Linked DNA regions of Homo sapiens. The protein of the gene in region 2 interacts with the protein of the main gene of each other region in a pairwise test. Each region holds a gene or a part of one and is shown on either strand. Other genes may lie near its edges.

Evidence for each region.
Region 1: the proteins of PATZ1 (region 2) and LURAP1L interact in binary tests that used the Homo sapiens proteins (3 or more experiments, as listed by UniProt).
Region 3: the proteins of PATZ1 (region 2) and PPP1R16B interact in binary tests that used the Homo sapiens proteins (3 or more experiments, as listed by UniProt).
Region 4: the proteins of PATZ1 (region 2) and PRDM6 interact in binary tests that used the Homo sapiens proteins (3 or more experiments, as listed by UniProt).

The regions. Positions count from the first base shown.
Region 1 is NC_000009.12:12,777,999-12,785,031, forward strand, and holds part of LURAP1L (leucine rich adaptor protein 1-like), read left to right. Parts: intron 1-7,033.
Region 2 is NC_000022.11:31,343,347-31,350,886, reverse strand, and holds the start of PATZ1 (POZ-, AT hook-, and zinc finger-containing protein 1 isoform long C), read left to right. Parts: upstream 1-4,540; 5' UTR 4,541-5,284; coding exon 5,285-6,555; intron 6,556-7,540. UniProt on the Homo sapiens protein: Transcriptional regulator that plays a role in many biological processes such as embryogenesis, senescence, T-cell development or neurogenesis. Interacts with the TP53 protein to control genes that are important in proliferation and in the DNA-damage response.
Region 3 is NC_000020.11:38,808,683-38,815,715, forward strand, and holds part of PPP1R16B (protein phosphatase 1 regulatory inhibitor subunit 16B isoform 1 precursor), read left to right. Parts: intron 1-7,033. UniProt on the Homo sapiens protein: Regulator of protein phosphatase 1 (PP1) that acts as a positive regulator of pulmonary endothelial cell (EC) barrier function. Involved in the regulation of the PI3K/AKT signaling pathway, angiogenesis and endothelial cell proliferation.
Region 4 is NC_000005.10:123,190,229-123,194,787, reverse strand, and holds the end of PRDM6 (putative histone-lysine N-methyltransferase PRDM6), read right to left. Parts: 3' UTR 522-4,559; downstream 1-521. UniProt on the Homo sapiens protein: Putative histone methyltransferase that acts as a transcriptional repressor of smooth muscle gene expression.

The DNA.
Region 1 (7,033 bases), on a different chromosome or scaffold from region 2:
ATTAAGACTTTACTTTTTTGAGACACAATTTCTGAAACTGGGATTTATGTTGAGAGTCTCTAAGGTCCCTGATAATTTGTCGCATTTGTTGTTGTTTTTTGGAGAATATTTCATCACTACTCAAATGATGGTCCTCTGGTCTGGTGGAAGCTTCGTAAGCTTTGAAGCCAGATAAACCAGGGTTTCAGACAAGTCTAGAGCAAGTCAGGATATCAATAAGACCCAATAGGATGTAGGGCTGCCTGTCTAGGGAGACATTTAGCTTATCTTCCCCGGCAAAAAGGCTTGTCCCGCTCTCTGTGGCCCTCATTCTAGTCATGGCTTTTTCACTCACTAGTGTGTGGCACTGAACAAGTTATAGAACCACTTTGAGACTCAGCTTTCTTGTTAACATAGGAATAAGAGCATCTCCATTAAGGCATTTTAAGAATTCAGTGAAATAATATAAGAAAAACAACTATTACATAGATATTCAAAAACAGTAAGGATGCTGGCAGTAATGAGCATTACATCAATGACATGGGTTCCGTTGATCTTACAAAAGCAGCCCTACATGGATAATGTGGATTTGGGACTGATGAAGGCCTAGATATCTTCTCCACCAGACTGACTCTATCATGTCATCTCCCATGTCATCAGATACTCTCTGTAGAGACGATGTTTCCAAACAAACTAACGCACAAAATATGTGTAGGTTTCCCTAGCTTCAGTTCAACTGGAAATCTTGATTTTTATTTTAAATTTAACTTTTATTAAACACATGCTATGTGCTAAGCATGCTGCTGATTGAAGTAGCATGTATGAAAGAATTGTAGAGCCTAATGTCAGGTAGTCCAGGAAATCTGAGGAACTTAAACCAATACAGTAGCCCACCTTATCCATGGGAGATATGTTCCAAGACCTCCAATGGATGCTTGAAACTGTGGATAGTACCAAAGCCTATATAGACTGTTTAGTCCTATGCGTACGTACCTATTGTAAAGTTTAATTTATAAATCAGTCACAGTAAGAGATTAACAATAATAACTAACAATAAAATAAAACAGTGTATTGCTATGTGAATGTCTCTCTCTCTCTTTCTCTCTCATTCTCTCTCTCTCAAAATACTATAATATTTTCAGACTGCAGTTGACTGTAGGTAACTAAAAGCAAAGCCATAGATAAGGGTGTACTACTACATTTGGTTACTTTGGTGAGACTTTACTATGTGTAAGACACGGTGCTAGTTAAACATTTTATATGTATTATCCCGTTGAAATCTTATAATCTTTTTTTTTTTTTTTTTTTTTTTTTTGAGACGGAGTCTCGCCCTATCGCCCAGGCTGGAATGCAGTGGAGCGATCTCGGCTCACTGCAAGCTCCGCCTCCCAGGTTCAGGCCATTCTCCTGCCTCAGCCTCCCAAGTAGCTGGGACTACAGGCACCTGCAACCACGCCCGGCTAATTTTTTGTATTTTTAGTAGAGACAGGGTTTCACCGTGTTAGCTAGGATGGTCTCTATCTCCTGACCTCGTGATCCGCCACGGCCTCTCAAAGTGCTGGGATTACAGGCGTGAGCCACCGTGTACGGCCGAAACTTTATAATCTTTTAACTAAATGTAATTGTCACCATAATCTTATAGACAAAGCATTGAGGTTTATTGAGCTAATGCTGAAGGTAGTAAGTGGAGGAGCCAGGATGAGGTCAGAATCTGAGATTTTAACCATGCCTATGCTGTCACTTCTTACACTTTAGAATACCTCCATGCTCATGTGGACACCTAGGAACAAATGAATATTTCTATTCTTCTCCCAGAATTTCAAAACATTAAACATGTTAAACTGTATTTTTGTTTACCATAAGCCTTCCCAGGAGGAACAAGCACTAAACACAGTCTCTGGCTTAGGATTTGGATGAACATATTCAAAAGCCATCTGCTTCCCAGCAATCATAATCATACCCTTTCCTTTTGGCCACTATCACCAAGATCTCCAGTAGTACTTCCTCTCAGTCCACAAGAACTGCCATGAGCAGTTAAAGGTTCTCCTGACACGACCAGTTCAAGTTTTAGAGCTCAATAATATTCATGATGTAGGAGTATCAAGAGCTTTTCATTGGTAGCATTTTAGTTCCCCAAGAGATTCTGTTCAGGATAAAACTTAGACCTTAGGTAACTCCCTAGAAAGAACTAGAAACTTGGAATCCTGACACCATCTTGTGTTCATTTAAGCAGTACTTTCAAATTGCTGTTTTTCCAACAGGAACTCAGTTATCCTCTTCTTCTCAAATGATATCAGTTGCACAGCACTGTGTGGTGACTTGCCAGGTGTGTGGTTGAAAACACATCCATCTGAATTGTGCTCATGTAAACTGCACTCATAGAATTCACAAGGAAAAAAAACAAGGTTATATTTCAAAAGTCTCGATCTTAGACCTCTAAATTAAACCTGAATTATTCATTTTCTTAAAAAGGGGCTAAACACTGTGGTGGATGTTGAGATATAACTAGGACAGTATTATTTCATTTTACAGATAAGGAAACTATGGCTTACAGAGATTAATTAACTATGATTCCCAGCCTGTTATTCAAACAAGAACCACTGTGAGCCTGGCTATCTGCTTGATCCAAAGTAATCCCAAACTATACTATATACTATATGCACTACGAAATGTGCCCATTTACTGTGAACGAACATTTTTATAGTAATTTCATCACATATCTACCAATGGATCTTTTGGCATTCCTTTAAAAATATTGTTTCTTTTTTTTAAAAAAAATAAATGTTTCTCATTGTAAAACTTCCAATAATACAGTAATAAATTGTATAAATAAGAAGAAAAGTTCACTTAATCTTACTCCTCCCCATTTTACTCTATACTCCAGAGGAAATACTTCTGACATTTTGTTTGTTTGTTTAATCCATGAGCTCAGCCATTTATCATATCTTTGTGTTACAAACATTCCAAATATACTCTTTTAGTTATTATTATTATTATTAGTTTTATTATTTGAGATGGAGTTTCGCTCTTGTTGCCCAGGCTGGAGTGCAATGGCTCAATCTCAGCTCACCGCAACCTCTGCCTCCTAGGTTCAAGCGATTCTCCTGCCTCAGCCTCCCGAGTAGCTGGGATTACAGGCATGTGCCACTACGCCCGACTAATTTTGTATTTTTAGTAGAGATGGGGTTTCTCCACGTTGGTCAGGCTGGTCTGGAACTCCTGACCTCAGGTGATCTGCCTGCCTCGGCCTCCTAAAGTGCTGGGATTACAGGTGTGAGCCACTGTGCCCGGCCCCTTTTAGTTATTTTTAAATGTACAATAAATTATTGTTGACTGTAGTCACCCTGTTGTACTACCAAACGTTAGCTCTTATTACTTCTTTCTAACTATATTAATGTATCCATTAACCATTCCACTTCCCCCCAGCTCGCTACCCCTTCCCAGCCTCTGGTAACCATCATTCTACTTCCTAGCTCCATGAGTTCAACTGTTTTCATTTTTAGCTCCCACGAATAAGTGAGACCACGCCAAGTTTGTCTTTCTGTGCCTGACTTATTTCACTTGTCACGAAATCCTCCACTTCCATCCATGTTGTTGCAAATGACAGATTCTAATTCTTTTCTTCTGGCTGATTAGTACTCTATTGTGCGTACGTACAACATTTTCTTTATCCGTTTGTCTCTTGATGGACACAGGTTGCTTGTAAATCTTAGCTATTGTGAATAGTGCTGCAATAGACACAGGAGTGAAGATATCTATTTGATATATTGATTTCCTTTCTCCTGAGTATATACCTAGTAGTGGGATTGCTGGATTATATATTAGTTCTAATTTTATTTTTTTAAGGAATCTCGAAACTGTTCTCCATAGTGGCTATGCTAATGTACATTCCCACCAACAGTGTACAAGGGTTCCCTTTTGTCCATATCCTCACCGGCATTAATTATTGTTTGTTGTTTGGATAAAAGCCATTATAACTGGGGTGAGATAATATTTCATTGTAGTTTTGATTTGCATTTCTCTGGTGATCAATTATGTTGAGCACTTTTGAATATACCTGATTGTCATTTGGATGTCTTTTGAGAAATGTCTATTCAGATCTTTTGTCTATTTTTTAATCAGATTATTAGACATTTTTCCTACTGAGTTGTTTGAGCTACTTATGTATTCTGCCAGTTAATTCCTTGTCAGATGGGTAGTTTGCAAATATTTTCTCCCATTTCATGGGTTGTCTCTCCACTTTGTTGGTTGTTTCCTTTGCTGTGCAGAAGTTTTTAACTTGATGTGATCCCATTTTTCCATTTTTGCTTCGGTTGCCTATGCTTATGGGATATTCCTCAAGAAGTCCTTGTCCAGAGCAATGTTATAGAGAGTTTCCCCAATGTCTTCTTTTGGTACTTTTATGTTTTAGATGTAAGTCTTTGATTAGATTTTGTATATGGCAAGAGATAGGGGTCTAGTTTCATTCTTCTGCATATGGATATGTAGTTTTGGCAGTACCATTTATTGAAGAGACTATCTTTTCTCCAGTGTATGTTCTTGGCATCTTTGTGAAAAATGAGTTCACTGTAGGTATGTGAATTTGTTTGTCAGTTCTCCATTTTGTTCCATTGCTCAGTGTGTCTGTTTTTATGCCAGTATCATGCTGTTTTGGTTACTATAACTCTGTAGTATAATTTGAAGTCAGTTTTGTTCTTTTTGCTCTGGATGACTTTGGCTATTCAGGTTCTTTTCTGATCCCATATAAATTTTAGGATCTTTTTTCTATTTCTGTGAGGAATGTTACTGGTATTTTGATAAGGATTACATTGAATCTGTAGATTGCTTTGAGTAGTATGAACATTTAAAAAATGTTGATCTTCCAATCCATGAACATGGAATATCTTTTCATCTTTTTGTGTCTTATTCAATTTCTTGCATCGGTATTTTATAGTATTCATTGTAGAGATCTTTTACTTCTTTAGTTAAATCCTAGGTATTTAATTTTATTTGCAGTTATTTTAAATGGGATTACTTCTTGATTGCTTTTTCAGATTGTTTGCCGTTGGCATATAGAAATGCTACTGATTTTTATGTTAATTTTGTATCCTACAACTTTACTCAACTTATCAGTTCTAATGATTTCTTGGTGGAGTCTTCAGGTTTTTCCATATGTAAGATTATATCATTTGCAAATAAGAATAATTTGACTTTTTTTCTTCCCAATTTGGATGCCCTTTATTTCTTTTTCTTGTCTGATTGCTCTATCTAGGACTTCCAGTACTATGCTGATAAACAGTGATGAAGTGGGCATCCTCCTTATTTCCAGACCTTAGAGGAAAGCCTTTCAGTTTTCCCTCTTTCAGTATGATACCAGCTGTAGGTCTGTTTATATGGCTTTTATTGTGCAGTGGTAGATTCTTTCTATACCCAGTTTTTTGAGTTTTTATCATAAAGAGATGCCAAATTTTATCAAATGCTTTTCCAGTATCAACTGAAATTATCATATGGTTTATTCCTTCATTCTATTGATATGATGTATCACATTGGTGGATTTGCATATGTTGAACAGTCCTTGCATCCCTGGGATAAATTCCACTTGGTCATGATGAATGATTATCTTAATGTGTTGTTGAATTAGGTTCACTATTATTTTGTTTTGGATTTTTGCATCAATGTTTATCAGTGATATTGGCCTATACTTTCTCTTTTTTTGATACGTCTTTGCTTGATTTTGATATCAGGGTAATACTGGCCTAATAGACTGAGTTTAGAAGTATTCTCTCCTCTGTTTTTTGGAATAGTTTGGGTAGGATTGTTCTTCTTTAAATGTTTGGTAAAATTCAGCAATGAAGCTATGAGGTCCTGGGCTTTTTTTTTTTTTTTAATAATTTTGCATGCTTCATTCTTTTTTATTCTTTTATTTTGTCTCCCTCACTGTATATTTTCAATTAGCATGTCTTCAAGCTCACTAATTCTTTCTTCTCCTTGATCAGTTCTGTTGAGAGACTCGAATGCATTCTTCAGTATGTCAATTCAATTGTTTAGCTCCAGAATTTCAGCTTGATTTTTAAAAATTATTTCAATCTAATTTACATTTCATTTTACATTTTCATTATGGATAGGATTCTGAATTCTTTCTCTCTGTTATCTTGATTTGTTTAGCTTCCCAAACCAGCTATTTTGAGTTATCTGTCTGAGAGGTCACATATCTCTGTCACTCTGGGATTGGTTACTGGTGCCCTTATTTAGTTCATTTGGTGAGGTCATGTTTTCCTAAATGATCTTGATGCTTTTGAGTGTTCATCAATGTCTGGGTGTTGACAAGTGAGGTATTTATTGTAGTCTTCATAGTCTGGGCTTGCTTGTACCTGCCCTTCTTGGGAAGGCTTTAAAGAAGTATTTAAAGAAAATTGAGTGTTCAGATCTAAGTATTTGCCTATTGCAGCCATATCTGCCCAAGCCCAATAATAGTATGACTCTTGCAGACTAACAGAGGTAGCACTTTGGTGGTGTGGGGTACTATATGACAGAATTCCCTGGATTACCAAATAGAGACTCTTGTTCTCTTACTTTACCCCAAACAAACAAGTTTCTCTCTGTGCTGAGCTTCCTAGAATTGGAGGAGGGGTGACACGAGCACCTCTGTGGCCACCACTACTGCAACTGTGCTGAGTCAGACCTAAAGCCAACACAGTACTTGATGTCACCCGAGGCCTGTGGCAACTATTGCCTGGTCACCACTGATGTTTATTTAAGGCCCAAGGGCTCTTTAGTCAGCAGGTGGTGAATCATTCTAAACTTGTATTTTTCCCTTCAAGGTGGTGAGTTCCCTTCTGGCCCAGGGTGGGTGTAGAAATGCTGTCTGGGAGGGAGGGTCTGGAGTCGGGAACTTTAGGAATCTAGAATCTACTTGGTGCTTTATTTTACTTGGTAAAGCTACTTGGTAGCTGAGCTGATACCCAAATTCTGAGTCAAAGTCTTTTTTACTCTCCTCTCTTATTTCCTCAAGCAGAAGGAGTTTCTCCTCATGGCCACCACTGCCCTAGGCCCATGGCAAGTACTGCCTGGCTAC
Region 2 (7,540 bases):
TTTTGTCTGTCTCCTCTAGACTACGGGTTCCTTGAGGGCAGGATCTGTGGTCTGGCTTGTTCACTGCTGTATCCCTAGCATCTTACAAAACAAAAGCCTGGTGCTTAGTAGGTGATCAATAAATACAAATCTAGTTAATGAATACATGACCTTGACAGCTCTGCTTAGCCTAGGAGACAAGGATATTCTCAGTTCGCTGTCCAGCTGGTCTGCTGCCAAAACTGAGGTGCATGGTTTCCATGGCAACAGAAGAGGGCCCGACAGGCCAGCAGCAGGAGGCAGATGCAGGGATTGTGAGCTCTGCATGTTTTCAAGGTGTGGCCTAGAAATCCGGAACATGGCGGTGGGTTCTTTCAATAGATGTTGAGAGAAAAAAAGCTTCATAAATACGGCTAACTCAGTTGTTCACCAGGCAGGTTTCTAAGTCAATTAATGAAAACTCGGGCAAGTAGTCGAGGTCTTTAAAGGTGACATGGGAGGCTCTTAGTGTTTGAAAGTCTAGGAACTCAGGAAAGTTTGGTTTTAGTCTGGATCCTGACTAAGGGTGTGACCCTGGGCAAGTTACTTAACCTCTCTGGGCCTCAGCATGCTCATTCATAAAATGAGAGGTTTGACCAGCACTAAAATTATTTATAAAAACATGTGTGGTAGGAATGCAAAATGGTACAGTCACTGTGGAAGAGTTTGGTGGTTCCTCAGTAAGTTATACATAGAACCATCATATGACCCAGCAATTCCACTCCTAGGTATACACCCAAGAGAACTGAAGATAGGCACTCAAATACATACTTGTGCACAAATGTTCATAGTTGCACTATCCATAATAACCAAAAGGCCACCAATGGATGAATGGATAAAGGTAGTATATCCATACAATGGTGTATCATTCAGCCAGTCATAAAAAGGAACAAAGTATTTATACATGCTACAACATGAATGAACCTTGAAAACATTACGTTAAGTGAAACAAGCCAGACTCAAAAGGTCACATACAGTATTGTATAATTCCAACTAAATAAAATATCCAGGCTGGGCATGGTGGCTTACGTCTGTAATCCCAGCACCTTGGGAGGCTGAGGTGGACAAATCACCTGAGGTCAGGAGTTCGAGACCAGTCTGGCCAACATGGCGAAACCCCATCTCTACTAAAAATACAACAATTAGCCGGGCACGGTGGCATGCGCCTGTAATCCCAGCTACTTGGAAGACTGAGGCAAGAGAACCGCTTGAACCCAGGAGGTAGAGATTGCAGTGAGCCAAGATCGCGCCACTGCACTCCAGCCTGGGTGACAGAGACTTCGTCTCAAAAAATAAATAAATAAAAAAAATATCCAGAATAGGTAAATCCATAGAGACAGAATGCAGATTGGTGGTTGCCAGGGGATGAAGGGAGAAGGGAATGGAAAGTGACTTCTTAACGTGTACGGAGTTTTCTTTTGGGGTGATAAAAATGTTTTGCAACTGGACAGACGTGCTGGTTGCACAACATTGTGAATGTACTAGGTGCTAGTGAATGATACATTTTAAAATTGTTAATTTTATGTCAGTTGAATGTTACCTAAAAAAAAAAAAAAAAGACATGTTCTGCAAGCATGCCTTAAGTTACATAATGGATTCCTAGGAGCCTGAGAGATGGGCAAGACTGAGAGTAATGGATGAAGTAGAGAGGTTACTCCCACCCCCACAATCACACTGCCAAGGCGACATTTGGAAAAAAGCTCCCAGGTGGGATCAGAACGGCGTCTGGACTGTCTCTGGCCACTTCCCCAAGGTGGGATCCTGGACCACTCTGGCTCCTTGAACCTCAGGCTTCCTATCTGCAAAACAGGGCTGATGCACGTTCCCTGTTTTCCTCAGAGCACCACCTTCTGAACCCACCTTCACCGGGTGAATCCGCTGGAATGGGGCCAGTCATGGCACCTTGTTTTCTAAGCATAGCAGACAGAGAGTCAGTTCCTGGTTCAAGTGGAGCCATGGACGGGTGACAGGTTTCAGAAGCCACTGGTGAGAAAGGGGCAGTTAACCAGTTTGAATCCTGGCTCCATCACTATCTGTGTGGCCTTGGGCAGGTCACTCACCTTCCCCAGTTCCAATGGTTGAATAGGAATATCTGTACCTACTATGGAGAAACGATGTGTGTATACACTGGACACTCAGAGCAAACCTCTTTTTCTTTTCTTTCTTCTTCTTTTTTTTTTTTTTGAAACAGTTTTGCTCTTGTTGCCCAGGCTAGAGTGCAATGGCGCGATCTCGGCTCACCGCAACTCCGCCTCCCGGGTTCAAGTGATTCTCCTGCCTCAGCCTCCCCAGTAGCTCGGATTATAGGCATGTGCCACCACGCCCGGCTAATTTTGTATTTTTTTTTTTTTTGAGACGGAGTTTCGCTCTTGTTGCCCAGGCTGTAGTGCAATGGCACGATCTCGGCTCACGGCAACCTCCGCCTCCCAGGTTCAAGCGATTCTCCTGCCTCAGCCTCTCTAGTAGCTGAGATTACAGGCATGTGCCACCACGCCCGGCTAATTTTGTATTTTTAGTAGAGACGGGGTTTCTCCATGTTGGTCAGGCTGGTCTAGAACTCCCGACCTCAGGTGATCCGCCTGCCTCGACCTCCCAAAGTGCTGGGATTACAGGCATGAGCCACTGCGCCCGGCCTAGTTTTGTATTTTTAGTAGAGATGGGGTTTCTCCGTGTTGGTCAGACTGGTCTCGAACTCCCGACCTCAGGTGATCCGCCCGCCTCAGCCTCCCAAAGTGCTGGGATAACAGGCGTGAGCCACCGCGCCCGGCCCCTTTCTCTTTCTCTGTGGATGTTCCCAGCAGCTCTCTCAAAAATAAAACGTGCCAGTTCCCAAAATCCGCCCAAGAAAGCTGTGGCTCAGAGAGGGAGGCACTAGCCTAAGGTGACAGTGAGTCTGGGCTTAGAACACAGATCTCCTGGCTTCGTGTCCAGGGAACTTTCTTCATGCCTCTAATTCATTCTCTCCAACAGGAGTTTGGCATGTACTATGCCCTAGAGCGGAGGTGTGCAGGACAGGTGCTGCTGTCCCTGTGCACAGGTTAAGAAACAGTTTAACTGAATCTCAGGGAGGCCAAGTGACTAAGCACCAGGACACGAAACCAGAAGGCAGAGGTCTCGATTTTGAACTCGGATCATCCGCCAGGGCAACGCCCGGAAGCCTCAGGGCGCGCGTGGCTGGGCGCGAGCTCGGCGCGCAGCGGTGGGAATCCCGAGCGGAGTTGGAAGCCGGGCCCGTTCATTTGCATGCTAATACCCAGAATGCTTTTCCCCCGCACACCGCTTCTCTTAATGGAAGCGCTCAGTTTGGAACCGTGGAAAGTTTGGAACACATACTTCGCTGCCTCTTTGCAACTGTGGGAACTTCCCGCCCGCACACGCGGCGCCTGCAGCCTGGGGCTCCGCGCCAGGCGGCCCAAAGGCAGCCGCCAGCGCTTCCTGGGAAGACAAACCTTGGTGTACAACTCTAGCGTGGTAGCATCCCCGGGCGGGCCGGGGACAAAGCGCCGAGGCCTGGCGGCAGGGCCCATTACCAGAGCACCCGGCGTCTCACAGGGCTGCGGGCGCTGGGGATGCTCCGGGCTTGGAGAGGCCTGAGGGTGTCCCCGACTCCTCCGGCACCCCCACTTCCCTGAGGATTGCTGGGGCTTCCGGGGGTCCCTGCCCCGTCCATCGCCCTCATATTGTCGCCTCCCGGAGCTGGTGACTTCACGCTCCCCGGGGACAAAGCTCGGCGTGCTGTGGTTTGGGGGAGAAGCTGGACGCTGGCTTCATCTCTCCAGCTCTTCCGGGCGCGCAGCCCATCAGATCGATCAATGTACCGGGTGCAGAAGCAGCTCCGGAGGTTCGGCCTGTCTCCGGCCAGGACCCCGGGCCCTCTCTGGTGTTTGAAGCAGGGAGGCGGTCGCAGGCGACTTCTGGGAATTTCACGCATGAAAGCGGGGCTCCGAAGGGTGGACGACGCCCGCTCGACCTGCGAGTGCGCTTCGCAGGCTGGGGGGCCCGGATCCGCACCCCTCAGTTCCTGCCCCCCCACCCTGCTAGCCGCCACTCTCAGCGGGCAGGGGAGGGGCAGTGGGAGCTGGTTTGCTGGCTCGGCGCTTCGTTTGCATTGGTCCGGGGGGGCTGAGACTGCAGCCCCCGGCCCCGCGGGCGGGGTGGGGAGGCGGGGGCCGGACGGGGGCTCAGGCTGCTCTAGCATTGGCGGATCTGGGGAATGGGGAGGGGGGGCAGGAAGCGGGGGGAGCGGACTGCGGGGGGGGGGTGTATAAATAGGGAAGGGGGGACGTGCATCCTCGTCTTGGTGAGGGGGGGGCGCTCGGCACAAAGAAAGTGTAAAGTTTGCAGCGCCAGGCGGCCCGGGCTAGGCATCCGGGCGCGCACGTGCAAGGCCGGGGACGCCGGGGCCCCCACTCTGAGCTCGCCGTTTCTTTTTTTTCTGCAAGCGAGAGGGGGGGTGTTGTTGGTATCGCCCCCTCCTTCTCCTCCCCCCAGGGGTGAAAGTGCAAGAGGAAGTGCAGCCGCTGCCATCTTTCCTCCGCTCCGAACACACGGAGCCCGGGGCCGCACAGCCGCCGCTCCGCCGCCGCCTTCTCCCGGCCTGAGGAAGGGCCTACTCTGCCGCCGCCGCCGCCCGCCCGCTCCAGCCGCCGCCGCCGCCGCCACCGCCCTCCAGGCTCCGGGACCCGGCCCGCGCCACCGCCCCCGTGCGCGCCCCGCCGCCGCCGCCTTCGCCTTCGCCTTTTGTTTCCTCCGCTCCGGCGCCCCCGCCCCGGCTCGCGCTTTGCAGGGGACGCAGCGCGCGCCCCCAGCGGGCCCGGGAAAAGCCGCGGCGCGCGCGCGCGCCTGCGCGGCGGACCCCTCCTTCTCCTCCCCGCGTGCGCGTGCCCTTCTTGGCTGCGCGCCGGCGCCGCCTGGCGGGCGGGAGGGGAGGTGGCAGGCGCGTTTGCAGGAGGGGCGCACCTCTTCGCTCGCGCACCCCCCCGGAAGGTAGACCGGGAAGGGGAGGCGGGCGGGCGGAGAGGAGAGAGTGGCGCGCAGTCCAGCGAGGGCGGGGGTTGGCTATGTGGGGGGTGGTGCACCCCGCAGTCTAGACAGTCTGATCCGGGCTGGGGGCGTGTACACTCGGCGCACCTGCGAGACTACAGAGCCTCGGGCCGGCACGTGTGGGGAGTGTGGACACGTCTGCTGCGCCCCGCTTCTCGCTGCTGAGGGGAAGGGAGGGGGCGGGCAGGTGCAGCGGCCGGGCTAGTGGGAGGGGGCGGCGGCCATGGAGCGGGTGAACGACGCTTCGTGCGGCCCGTCTGGCTGCTACACATACCAGGTGAGCAGACACAGCACGGAGATGCTGCACAACCTGAACCAGCAGCGCAAAAACGGCGGGCGCTTCTGCGACGTGCTCTTGCGGGTAGGCGACGAGAGCTTCCCAGCGCACCGCGCCGTGCTGGCCGCCTGCAGCGAGTACTTTGAGTCGGTGTTCAGCGCCCAGTTGGGCGACGGCGGAGCTGCGGACGGGGGTCCGGCTGATGTAGGGGGCGCGACGGCAGCACCAGGCGGCGGGGCCGGGGGCAGCCGGGAGCTGGAGATGCACACTATCAGCTCCAAGGTATTTGGGGACATTCTGGACTTCGCCTACACTTCCCGCATCGTGGTGCGCTTGGAGAGCTTTCCCGAACTCATGACGGCCGCCAAGTTCCTGCTGATGAGGTCGGTTATCGAGATCTGCCAGGAAGTCATCAAACAGTCCAACGTACAGATCCTGGTACCCCCTGCCCGCGCCGATATAATGCTCTTTCGCCCCCCTGGGACCTCGGACTTGGGCTTCCCTTTGGACATGACCAACGGGGCAGCCTTGGCAGCCAACAGCAATGGCATCGCCGGCAGCATGCAGCCAGAGGAGGAGGCAGCTCGGGCGGCTGGTGCAGCCATTGCAGGCCAAGCCTCTTTGCCTGTGTTACCTGGGGTGGACCGCTTGCCCATGGTGGCTGGACCCCTATCCCCCCAACTGCTGACTTCCCCATTCCCCAGTGTGGCATCCAGTGCCCCTCCCCTGACTGGCAAGCGAGGCCGGGGCCGCCCAAGGAAGGCCAACCTGCTGGACTCAATGTTTGGGTCCCCAGGGGGCCTGAGGGAGGCAGGCATCCTTCCATGCGGTCTATGTGGTAAGGTGTTCACTGATGCCAACCGGCTCCGGCAGCACGAGGCCCAGCACGGTGTCACCAGCCTCCAGCTGGGCTACATCGACCTTCCTCCTCCGAGGCTGGGTGAGAATGGGCTACCCATCTCTGAAGACCCCGACGGCCCCCGAAAGAGGAGCCGGACCAGGAAGCAGGTGGCTTGTGAGATCTGCGGCAAGATCTTCCGTGATGTGTATCATCTTAACCGGCACAAGCTGTCCCACTCTGGGGAGAAGCCCTACTCCTGCCCTGTGTGTGGGTTGCGGTTCAAGAGAAAAGACCGCATGTCCTACCATGTGCGGTCCCATGATGGGTCCGTGGGCAAGCCTTACATCTGCCAGAGCTGTGGGAAAGGCTTCTCCAGGTGAGGAAAGGCCCCCTCTTCCTCCCCTGCCACACGTTATCTTAGTCCTGAAAAGGCTCCTGCCAAGATCTGGGGGTGTGGGATTTGTGGGGGTCATTTGACCTTATAGAACCATGCCAGGTTTGGGTAGAGTGTTTTTAAGGGCCCTTATTTTGAGATGGTATGCCTGAGACCTGCTTTCCATTCCCTCAGGGAAGTTTTTTTGACGCTAAGTGTGCCCTACTGTCTCTCCTCCTGGGGCCGGATTCCTCAGGCCAGAGCCACCGGACCTCACCATTCTTCCCCCAGGGCTCCCTTTGTGTTTCCGGCACCAGGCGTGGGGCCCCCTCTGGGGGCGGGAGACTGGGCTCCTCCAGCGACTTCCCCGCTTGAATGGCTGCCGAGGGAGGTACTGGAACAAGTGCATCTGGGACTCCCTACACTCTTGAGGCACCAGATTCCCCAACACAGAACACTGGCCATCCTGATCAGTAGACTCCAGCTGTGCCTCTCACACCACCCTGGGATCATGGGACACAGAGCTGGTCACCCAGAGCTGCTGCTTAACACCAAAAGCTTTGATCTGCTCTGACCTGGTAGCTCTAGAGCCTAATGGGACCCACGAGCCCCTTTATGTTTTCAGGACAGAAAGGAATGGGGACAGGATCTCTATGTAGGTTCACTTTCTAGTTAGCCTGTTGGGGAACTGAGGACTTGTCTGGGAGCAGAGGGTGATTTTGTTTTTCTCCTAAAAGGCCGGTTTTAACCTGGATTGTAGGACCTTGTGTGTGTGAACACAGGGATGGAGAACTCCCTCAGAGGGCCCCGACCAGGAACCAGTCTTACCGGTCAGGCAGCCCCTGCCCACCTGCTCAGGCGGGCATCTGGCTTACCAGCCCAGCTGGGGACTTAAGGCTCCACTGCTGGCCTCTGGGGACTGAATTCCATCCGGGTGGCATTCATTGGCTGCCCGTGGCGGGAGAGGCTGGGGGAGGGGATTGCTGAG
Region 3 (7,033 bases), on a different chromosome or scaffold from region 2:
TAATGCCTACTTTGTGGGATTGTAAGGATTCCATGAGACCATTAACACATAGAAAGTGCTCAGTACTAGGGTGGAGCATAGTGGCTCACACCTGTAATCCCAGCAGTTTGGGAGGCCAAGGCGGGAGGATCACTAGACGTCAGGAGTTCGAGACCAGCTGGCCAACATGGTGAAACCCCATCTCTACTAAAAATACAAAAATTAGTGCAGCATGGTGGCGCATGCCTGTAGTCCTAGCTACTTGGGAGGCTGAGGCACGAGAATTGCTTGAACCCGGGAGCAGGAGGTTGCAATGAGCCGAGATCACATGACTGCACTCCAGCCTGGGTGACAGAGCGAGACTCCATCTCAAAAAGAAAAAGAAAAAAAAAAGTGCTCAGTACAGCATCTGGTGTGGGTAGGAATGCAGGAAATGATCATTGTCACCATCACTACTATTTCCTCCTTTGTGTTGGACTCTCAAAGGTCCCACCTCCTCCAGTGCTAGGGTGGGGAGTGAGTGCGACCCTGTCTCTTCTGCCTGTAGCCATCAGGACGGGGAAAGCCTCTCAGCCTGTCTCCTGGGGCGGGGGTGGGGGCTCACTCCTGGGAACTTGAGTCTAGCACCAGCTTTTCCCCGGGGAGTCTGTGAGCAGCCACTTAGCCTTTCTCAGCTGACTGCCATTTTCCAGGATTCATTGATTCATTCAAAAGACGTTTATTCCATCCCAGCCCTTGTGCTTAGCAAGGGATTTCAAGATGAATGAGGCAGCTCTCAGAGTTCTCCCTCTATGGGGAGAGGCAGGCCTGGAGACAGATAATGAGGACACTGTGGGATAAAGGCTGCAACAGCAAGAAGAGAGAGTGACGAGCAGATCCACATGGCTCAGGCTGACCCAGGTCTGAATCTTGAAGCTGCCACCTTGTAGCTGGGTGAGGATGGACAGAGGCCTTACCTCTCAAGCAGATAAGCCACCTCCCTAAGATGATGATGTGAGGAGAGAAGTGAGACACTGTGGATAAAAAACCTAGCTTGGACCAGGTGCGGTGGCTCATGCCTGTAATCCCAGCAATTTGGGAGGCAGAGGTGGGCAGACTGATTGACTCCAGGAGTTCGAGACTAGCCTGGGCAATATGGCAAAACCCCGTCTCTACAAAAAATACAAAAAATTAGCCAGGCATGGTGGTGTGCACCTGTAGTCCCAGCTACTTGGAAGGCTGAGGTGGGAGAATCACCTGAACGGGGGAAGTGGAGGCTCCTGTGAGCCATGATTGCGTGCACCTCTGCACTCTAGCCTGGGCAACAGAGTAAGACCTTGTTTCGAAAAAAAAAAAAAAAAAAAAACAAAACCAAAAAACTTAAAAACCCAGCTTGGGCTTTCTAGATATTAATAAGTGCTCACAGATGTTCGTTGCTATTATTAGTCTATTATTGCCAATAACAGGTGGGCAAAAGTTGCTGTGGGAGCATGTTGAGCCCTTCAGTGACAGTTTTCCAGGTGGTAGGGCAGCCCTAGCCGGGAGAACAGCATGTGCAGAGGCACCGAGGCTTAAAAGTGCTGGATGTTTTTGGAGAGCAGTGGGAGGAGTTGCTGATGGAGCAGAGTCATGAGAAAGTTTGATGGAGGCAGAAGCAAGGCCAGGGAGGTAGCAGAGGCTATCCTGCCGGGAGCCCCGAAGGATTAAACACTCACTGACCCGAGGCAGTCCCTCTGCACCTTCCTTGGAGGGTGGTTCTCTAGTGAGGGTTGTCCAGGAAACTTCAGGATTAACTTTTGCATGGGAGGAAGGGCTGGTCTCTGCTCAACTATCCATACATTCACCATCCTTCCCTCTTCATTCCACCCAGGAAGCACGAAGAAGAAGAGGTCCACTCCCTCTTCCTGAGATGCTTTTCCCACCTCTGCACTTGTTTCTCTCTTCCTGGGACTCAGTTTCTCACCTGAGAGAAGAGGGTAGAAGTGGAGGAAGCGTCATGACCTGACTCACTGATTGATCATGATATAGCACCAAGTGCATTTCTGGATGCTGGTCACTGTCAAAGGTCTTTACTTGCATCGCCATTGAATTCTCATACCAATCCGTTGAAATGAATGCACTTATCCCCCACTGCACAGAGGGAGAAACCGAGGCACAGAGGGTGAGGCAATTTGCTAAAGGGCATGCAGCTTGTAAGTGACAGGAACTCACGTCTTGGGGGGCATCTCAAAGTTGCCATGTGCTATCCTTCACCACCTTCTTCACACACTTTGTAAATCTAAGGCTGACTGCAGAATATCTGGCCTCTTTTGCTTTGTGTACCTTTGGGCGCTGGGCAGTAGGCATTTTGGAGATGGGTCACAGTGGGGTGTGCTCTGGGTATGTAACCTGACTTTGGGGAAATTCCTGGGTGCAGACGCTTTGTGGGGAGGTGTTCTTGGATGTCTCAGAATCTAGAATGGCATTCCTTCGCCCACAGATGTGCCTTGATGCAGGCAATGTGCAGCTTGATTGATGTGGCAAGATGGTGGCTGAGCCCCACGGTGGCCCCAGGAAGGAATGAATGAATCTTTTAGGATGGCTGATCAGAGCATCACATGACCACAGACCCTCCCTGTTTCAGAGGACATCCAAACACAGGCTTACATTTCCTTTTACATGGGGGCAAAGTTTGGGGCCAGGGTTCAAATGCTGGCTCTGCCTCCACTGGCTTTGGGGCCTAGGGAAATTTTTTCACTTCCTTGAACCTTAATTTCTTCATCTGGAAATAAAGATGAAGAAATAAGTTGCTAATTTTAGCATCTTCAATAAGTTGCTAAATAGTAACTCACAAACACAATTCTGAATTGTCATAAGGATTTGTAATCATATGGAAAATGCTTGGCTTCCAAGCTGTAGATAATATTGATGTAATATCCAGCAGATTTTTCTCTGCAGTACTTATAATTGTGATTATATGGTTATATGTGAGCATTACTCTTTTAGTCTTCTGTTTCATCCACTAGACCTGTGGTTCTCAACTTGGGGCAGTTTGACCCTCCCCAGGGGATATTTGGCAATGTCTAAAGACGTTTTTGGTTGTTACAACTTTTCGGGGGATAGTGGGGGAGAGGAGCTACTGACATCCAGTGAGTAGACACCAGGGGTGCTGCTAAATATCCTGTGGTGCACAGGAGAGCACCCCCACAACAGAAAATGATCTGATCCCAAATATCAATAGTGCTGAGGTTAAGAAAGACTACACTGGACGATGAGCCCCATAAGGTCCGTGACTGTGTCCAATTCATTCAGCTGTGTGTCTCCAGTTGGCCAGCGTGATCAGCATGATGTCCAGCACACAGGAGACAATCAATATGCATTAAAGGAATGAATGAGGACTTGGAAGGCCTTATGTCCCCTGGAGTCCCAGGGGTTTAGCTTGTGGAACATTTTGAATAGGCAGAAGAGATTTAGATGAACTTGAATGATGAACAGCCAATTAGTAACTCAGGCCAAAGACATTCAGACCGAGCTCTCTGTTTTCCTTCCCAAGCAGGTGCTTGGGGGCCCAGATTATCTGAATTGTTCCTGCCATCACCACTGCATTTTACCCATGTAGATACAGGACCCGTCTTTATCTGGAAAGTAGGCTGGGGCAGAGGAGCATAGGTGCTGTCAGCTGGGCCCTTGGGATTTGCCAAGCTGGGGCACAGCTGCTTGTCAGCTTCCTGTTTTGTCCCTTTCTAGTGGAATGAAGGAAACCCACTGAATGGCTATTTTCCACTGACATTTACAGCAATGTGATAGGCCTTGGATTAATGAGGTCAAACTGCAGTGTGAAATCTGCCTGATAACTTGAAGCTTGGCCAACGGGAAGACATCGCTTGTTTTCTTTGGACCGTTTGATGTCCCTGGATGGCTTTAGGCAGGAAAGCAGGGGTCTCAATTCTGTACGAAAGAGGAGGGTGTTTTACTTCCTGGAATTATAGAGGCCAGAGGTGTCTCTTTTTCAATTTATTGGGAAGGTTTATTTTAATATGGACTTAGAAATAAATAACTTATTAAAGTGAAGGTTCACCTGGAGCCTTAGGCTGGCTGCTAAGTGTGAGTCTGGGCTGTTGAAGGGACTGTGCTGTTCTTCTGGGTCTCTGTAGGAGTTTGAAGGAGAAGACTGGCCCCAAAGGGTGTTTGAACAGGTTAGATGTGCCCATTGGTTAGAACTTACTTGGATAGGGAGAAGGGATCTAGGGCGTATCCACAAACTTGCATATGGATCCCCTTTGGTTTCCTGCTAAAATGCAGAAACTGACTCAGTAGGGCTGGGTATGGAGTTTTCTGCATTTCTACCAAGCTCCCAGGGGGTGTCAAGCTGCTAGTCTGTGAACTGCACTTTGAGAAGCAAGGGTATGGGAGACCCCAAGTCTACAGGTGAGGGTTCCCTGGTGCAAACCGCTTAAGCATGAAAGCAAATGCAGCCTGTTGTGCCTGTTCACACAGCCATCTGCTGTGCTGGCTGGCTTGCGGAGTCACAGATGTTCACTGTGCCCCTTCTCTGTGTGCCCAGGCCTGGGACCAGACTTGACAAAGAGGATGCTTGGTCTCAAGGAGCAACTCAGACAGCCAGAATGTCAGCTAGAATGATGAGCTTTGAGTACTTTCAAAAACATGTATCCAGGTACATGGTGTTCCTGGGTCATCTGGTCACCTGGGACTTGTGAGAAGTACAGATGCCTGGGCCTTAGCCCAGTCCACCTGTGTTAGAATCAGCCAATATAGGGCCCTGAAAGTCTGTATTTTCTCAAAGTGTGCCAGGTGATTCTGATTCACAGCCAGACTGATGGAAGGGAAGGTGGGAGGAAGAACTGCCAGTACATGCAGGTTAATTGCTCAGCAGGACCTATGTAAGGTTGTAGAGTTGTGTATTGCTGATGGGCACAGTGGCACTCGGCTAAAGGAGAGGCTGAAATCTAGCCTGTGGATCCACTTGCCAAGCTCTGCACCCTGCAGGGTTGCATCTGCTTAGAGGGACGGGCACCTTTTTCTTAATATTCATCATAATCACTTGGTACTTATTATGAGCCAGGTGCTGTCTACTTAACTCCTTTAGTCCTCCTAACAACTCTAAGGGGTGACATCATCATCATCATCATTATTATTATTATTATTATTATTATTATTATTATTATTATTATTTTGAGACACAGTCTCACTCTGTCGTCCAGGCTGGAGGGCAGTGGTGCCATCTCGGCTCACGGCAACTTCTGCTTCCCGGGTTCAAGTGATTCTCCTGCCTCAGCCTCCTGAGTAGCTGAGATTACAGGCACCCGCCACCACTCCTGGCTACATTTTGTATTTTTAGTAGAGAAGGGGTTTCACCATGTTGGCCAGGCTGGTCTCAAACTCCTGACCTCAAGTGATCCACCCGGCTCGGCCTCCCAGGGTGTTGGGATTACAGGCATGAGCCACTGTGTCTGGCCAGGTGTGACTTTAGTGCTACTCTGATTTTACTGTTCAGGAAAGTGAAGCAGAGAGGTTCAATGTCTTACTCAAGGTCACACAGCCAGTAAATGGAAAAGTCAGGATTCCATTTCAGGACATCCGGCTTCAAAGTCCTTGTACTGAATCATTACACTCTCTGGCCCTTTCTTTGCATAAAAATGCTGTCTTCTCTTTATGGGGCTATCCCTACTCTGAGGGAGTACCTTTTTTCTTGTCCTTCCTTCAGAGGGGGGAAGGCTAGCAATGACCTTGGCTGGCTTTAGAGTCAGGTACGGGTTTGATTCCTACCTCCAGCACCTACTGCAACCTTGAGTAAGTTACATGTGTGTATTTGCTGAGCCACAATTTCCCCATATGTAAAACAGGAATAATAATAGTATAATATAAATTGATATGATTAGGCATTTAGCCTCTGCTTGGCAGGTAGGAGGTACCTGATACATGCCAACTATTCTTATGGCATTATTATCATTAGAGTTAGTCCCTAGGAGTATTCAGGAGCTAGGGAAATAGGTGAGCAAAGCACTGTGTCATTATGTCCCCAGGAGCTGGGTCATTCATTTTGTTCACTAGGTTACTTATGGCCATTACTTACCTGGGCATCCCTAGTCTCCTCCGCTTCTTGGCCCCAGAGTCTGTGCCAGCCTGGAGAGTTCTCAGAATGTCTTAGTTCAGACTCTTAGTCAGAACTGCCTTTGTTTCCTCACATCCAAGAACAAGTAAAACATACAAATTTTGACACTTATTCTCTTTAGGTCTCTTGACTCTTTTTGGTGACTTTCTCTGTCTCCTGTTTTCTTTCTGGAACTATTGCTGTCGTTGGCTATCCCATGGACTGGATAGAGAGGAAATGTTGCCTTATAAACATTGCCAATTACCTTATAAAAATATAGGGAAGATTTTCACCAAAATGTCATTCATTTTTTTTCTTTTATATATAAACTTAAGCTTTTGTTTTCCTATGGCTGTATGTCATGCTTTTTAATTACACAAAGTATATAAGTGTATCATAAGTAAACTTTCCCCATCTTCTCAGCCACTCATCCCTTTTCCCCGGAATAAATCTATAAATGTTTTATGTATTTTTCCATAAATTTCATATGCATATATAAACCCATATTCATTTACATGTTTATCCATTTTTCTTTTTAACACAACTATACAAAACTCTCCTGAGATCTTCTTTTTCAGCTAATTTATCTGAGCACATGCCAACACACAGATATACCTGGATCTTTAAGGCTATCTGATAGTCCAGTGATAAAAATGTACCATCATTTGTTTTCTAGTTTCTTGATGATGGCTAAGATAGTTTCCAGTTTTTTTCCTCCTACAAATGTATAATGTTGCAACATCCTTGTTTGAACAGTGTATATATCTTTGTATACTCTACATACTGATGATTTTATTCATAAGGAAAATTCCTGGCAGTTTCAACTGTGATAGACATTGCTAACCTGTTCTCCAAAGAGGCTGAACCAATTTCTGTTTCCTCAACAGTGTATGACTGTTTCCCCCATCTATTCTCCAGCACTGAGGATTAAGTAACTTTCATTTTTGTCAGTCTGACAGATATAAAGCAGAACATTTCTGCATA
Region 4 (4,559 bases), on a different chromosome or scaffold from region 2:
CAGCATCAGTGTCCTTCTTGCTATTCCTACATGCTCACATATTTTTTCTAAGTGAAATTTTATTTTCCAACAGAACAAGAGACAAACAGCTGACTTTGGCTTTCTTTCTGAGAGCCCCCAATCACATACATTCAGAAGAGTCATAGCCCCAGGCCACTCTCCGGGCAAGTGCTTTCTGCTGTGCTCCAAAGCTTATGGGGTTAGAGGTCAAATATCAAGTCCAGCCTGCCACAGATTTGTGGCTGGGTCTCTGCGCACAGTTTCCTTAAGAAGCTGTGCACCTGACTTGGTTGGGCAAATGAGCATGTGAGCACATGAATAAGGAAAACAGTAATCTCAAATGCATCCGAATAAACCTCAGGGCTGAATTTTAACAACCTTCCTGCTTGCTAGGTGTATTTTCTAGCTTATACTTCCCCAACAAGAGTTTGTTGACTGCCTACTACCTAAGCTGCACACTAGAATCAGATGGTGCTTGAAAAATGACTGTGGGACTGGAAAAGACAGAATCCAAGGGAAGATCGAGTCATCATAAAAACGTTTTATTAATCAAATATATTTACATTTCTTGGTCAATGATCTCTAAATGTGTACCTGTTTTTTCATTTAAATACAACTTAATCCTGGTAGATTCCATCACAAGAATACAGCAGCATGCATGATCTCATTGGTCCTTTGCAGTTATTTTTTCATTAAATAATGTGAGTTTAATAAAGTTAGAAAACTTTATTAAGTTTTACCCATTCTTACTGTGGGATAATCATTCTTGTCATATCAGTGGCCCTTACAGCAAACTACACACTCCTTATCACCCACAGTGAGATTCTTCTCATTCTCTTAACTGACTTGTTTAAGCTTTCCAAACTCCAAAAGGCAGATGTGAAACTGGGCATTCACTCTAACCATTTTATTTGGTGGAAAGTTGGAGAGAGACATATTTCTATTCCAGTAGGGAACATTTACAGTCCTAAACTTAAAATAACCACATTAAAGAAATGTATACAATGTCCTAATAGCATCTAAATATCACACTTCTATTAGCATCCTACAGAACTGGATGTCTTCCCCTTGATATAAAAAAAATAATTAACTTGGGACATTAAGTTTCCAAAATAATTTTGCTGATCTGAGCCAAAGTTTTCCTTAATTCGTTAGTCATCACCTTAGCCTCTGCATTTAAACTGGGGGAAGGCTTTTTCATGAAATACTTAGAACTGCTAAGGAGAATAATTTTGCCTCTGGCTTTTGCTATACATTTTCTCCAGGTTGGGAGAAACTAGAGAAGTGTACTAGATTGTTCAGAGAAAGTAAGTCTACAAGTGCTGATTTTGTTAACATTAGACAATGCCCACATGTGGATCAACAGGGACTGTGGGTTGGCAGACTTTTGCTCTAAGATGGCTGCTTTCCCCAACATGTGGCAATCACCTGATACGGCATAATTGCTTTTAAACATGAAAGAGTTGTGCTGTAGAAATAGATCTCCAGCTTGTTAAAGTTTATATCTAGACTGTTTTCAGTTGGGAGTGATGTACCAAAGTGGGAGAAAGGCACCAACAAGGATGTTTTTCAAGGCAGGAAACAGGAGATATCAACCAGGACCCACCATGTTTGACAAGGAAAATATATTTATCATTTCAACAAACAAATGTGCCCATTAGAATCAGAATCTGGAGGAAAGTAGTATACATTGTGGTTTCAATAAACCACGGTAAAGAGTTGTAATAAAGCCAGTTCATGATGAAATTTTGTACACTTACTTTTTGAACAAACCTCACAGTTTCATCTAGATTGTGCCCCAGAACTTGAACTGGTTCCTTGAGTACCTCATGCATGTAACTACACTATCTGTGCCTTTGACAAACCAAACCTATAATGACTCCAGTCTTTCTGCTGCACTGCTTTAAACCAACAGGCTAACAACATAAGCCCATATTCTTAATGCACACAACTGCGTAATGACTCCATTGATGCCTGGAAAGTAACTCACTTAGCATTCAGTCAGAACAAAGAAAGAAAACGAGATTTCACTTAGCCCCGTTGAGGATGTGTTTTTACCTGTCGATAGTGTTCGAACCTTATTCTCTTCTGGCCACCCTCCAACACAACCTGCCCTTCCTGCCTGTTGCCATTTGTCCTAATGTATATCACACTTGAGAGGGTTATTTTTTTTTCTTTCAATGTGGAATTTTAGATTCCTGCTTAGAAAAACAAAAACAATGCCTGACAGCAATGGAATAGTTGAAATTCTGTCCAGCAATGAGATTTGGGCATGACAAAATCAGCATCTATAATGATACGTGTTTTAATAGCACTTCAGTATTGTTTCCACAAACACATTTTATAAATAAATTATACTTGTGTTTATTAATTTTTAAAAGCTCTTGTTCTCAAAAAAAAGCTTTACATAGAGAAGTATTTTCCTCTTTTAACAATTGCCTGTTTATGGCTTTGAAGGAGGAAAAAAACTAAAGAAGCTACAAAGCTAAAACTGTTAAGCATATATGAGAAGGGGATAATGATAGTATCTTTGTTATAGAGTTACTAAGGATTAAAAGAGATAATCCACATTAAGCATTAGAACAAGGCATGGCAGTAATTGCACAATATAATTTATAATCATCATCATTCCCATCAACCTCTGTGGGAATAAGCGCAGAATGTCCTTATTTTTCCATTAAAATTTCCTCCATAGGTTTTCTAAGTGCAGTGGTGGCATATTCAGTCTATAGGAAAGACAATTCAAATGTTTCATGACTTTGACCTGTTTCCGACATATTTTTTGTTATCGTTTTACATATTGATCTGATGAAACATCTGGCATTTATTATTTAAAGGAAGAAACTAAATAAATATTTTAAATGTCAAACACAGCCATGGACTACAGGTTAAACATCTGTGGCAAGGTTTCCACAGATAAAGCAATATTCTTTTCAGTTTGGCTCTGTCTGGCCAGTTGTACCTGACAGCTGATCTCTGGGTTTGTAGAATGCAATCTTGGGGAGGGCTGAAATAGGTGCCTTCCTAGTAACCTGCGTTGTTGTTTTGTGGTAGTTCAGATAAATGCTAGTGAGGGGAGAACTTTAAACTTTGGGTTGATGATCACCCAGGTATCTAGTTAGCGCATAAAATTTTCCAAAGCTCTTCACCTTAAAAGGATCCTGACAAGTGAATAACATTTCTGGAACTTACAGTTATCATTTAAAGAAGCATATATCTCAGTATCTTTTAAAATCTGATGTCAGGATCTAGTAAAGACTCTGGGAAATAAAAATTAAATTCATGTCAAGGAAGAAACAGATAAACATTTCAGGAAATGTGATTATTTATTTCTTATTCCTGGCCTGGTTTCTGTAGGCATGCATAGCCTTAATATGAGAGCAATGAATTTGCTCCTAAACGCAGGCTGCTGGGTACACTCAGAGGGACCCGTTAACCCTGCTGTTCTGGAAATGCCCTCTTTGTGAGACGTGCCATGATTCCCATTTTAAACAACTCAATAGATACTTGCATTTTAAATTTTAAATTAGTGCAAAACAAATAATGTTACTTCTGCACACCGGGGAAAGGGACTACACTGCCAACGCTTACCACTAATGAGGCAACTCTGACCCATTCAGGGTCGCAGATCTCCTTCCCTGAGCAACTCCAGCCTTGTACCCAACTTGTTGCCTTATCATTGAAAGGGGGGGTCATAAAAACCCAAGACCCAGGCCCTAATCCTGGTCTCTTGATACTGCTGCTAACAACCAATAGCCCAGTGAGTTAAGCAAAGACAACCAAGTTGTGCATCTTAACTTGTTTTGCAATATGCTATTTTCTGGTCCCCAGATGAATTTACCTCTCTCAGATTTTCCCAGTTGGAACAAAATCTTTAACTTCACTGAGACAATGGTCTAAAGGACTAAAATACCCATTTTACTAGCAGCCACTTAGGAGGAGAATATTATTTTATCATGAATAGTCACTTAAATAATGCTGCTTATGGTGAACACATAAAATGGGGTCTTTATATAAAATAAGAGTTCAATAAATACTTGTTGAATAAATGAATGAAACAATGAACATCTGATTTAAAAATTGATGAACTGCTAAATGTTCGTATAAATCTTTGCATACCTGAACCAGAATGAAATTTTTACAAGGTAAAATTCAATTATGAGCCCTATGAGGACACAATGATGTCATGATCTTTTCCTGTTATACATAGTTTCCCAAGAAGGCTACATTTAAATGAACACAATAAAAAATGTACCAACTGAATCAAATTATATAAATTATATGAGATTAAGTTTCATAGCTTTAATTAGCCATACAATAACTTTTTAGAAGTATATCTCCTCCAAAAAAGTCATTTTTAAAGATAAAAACAAAACAAAAATGAAAAGCTTATCTATGAAAAATGTATGCACATATCCTGGGGAAAATACAACTTTGCCTTGGGATATTGAGATTTTTCTAGAAATGCAAAGGTCTGCAGCTCCATCTCTCATCCTATTGCACCCTGACTTTTCCCTGGCATTACCTTTCGTCTTAGACTCTGCTAAATAAAGGAACAT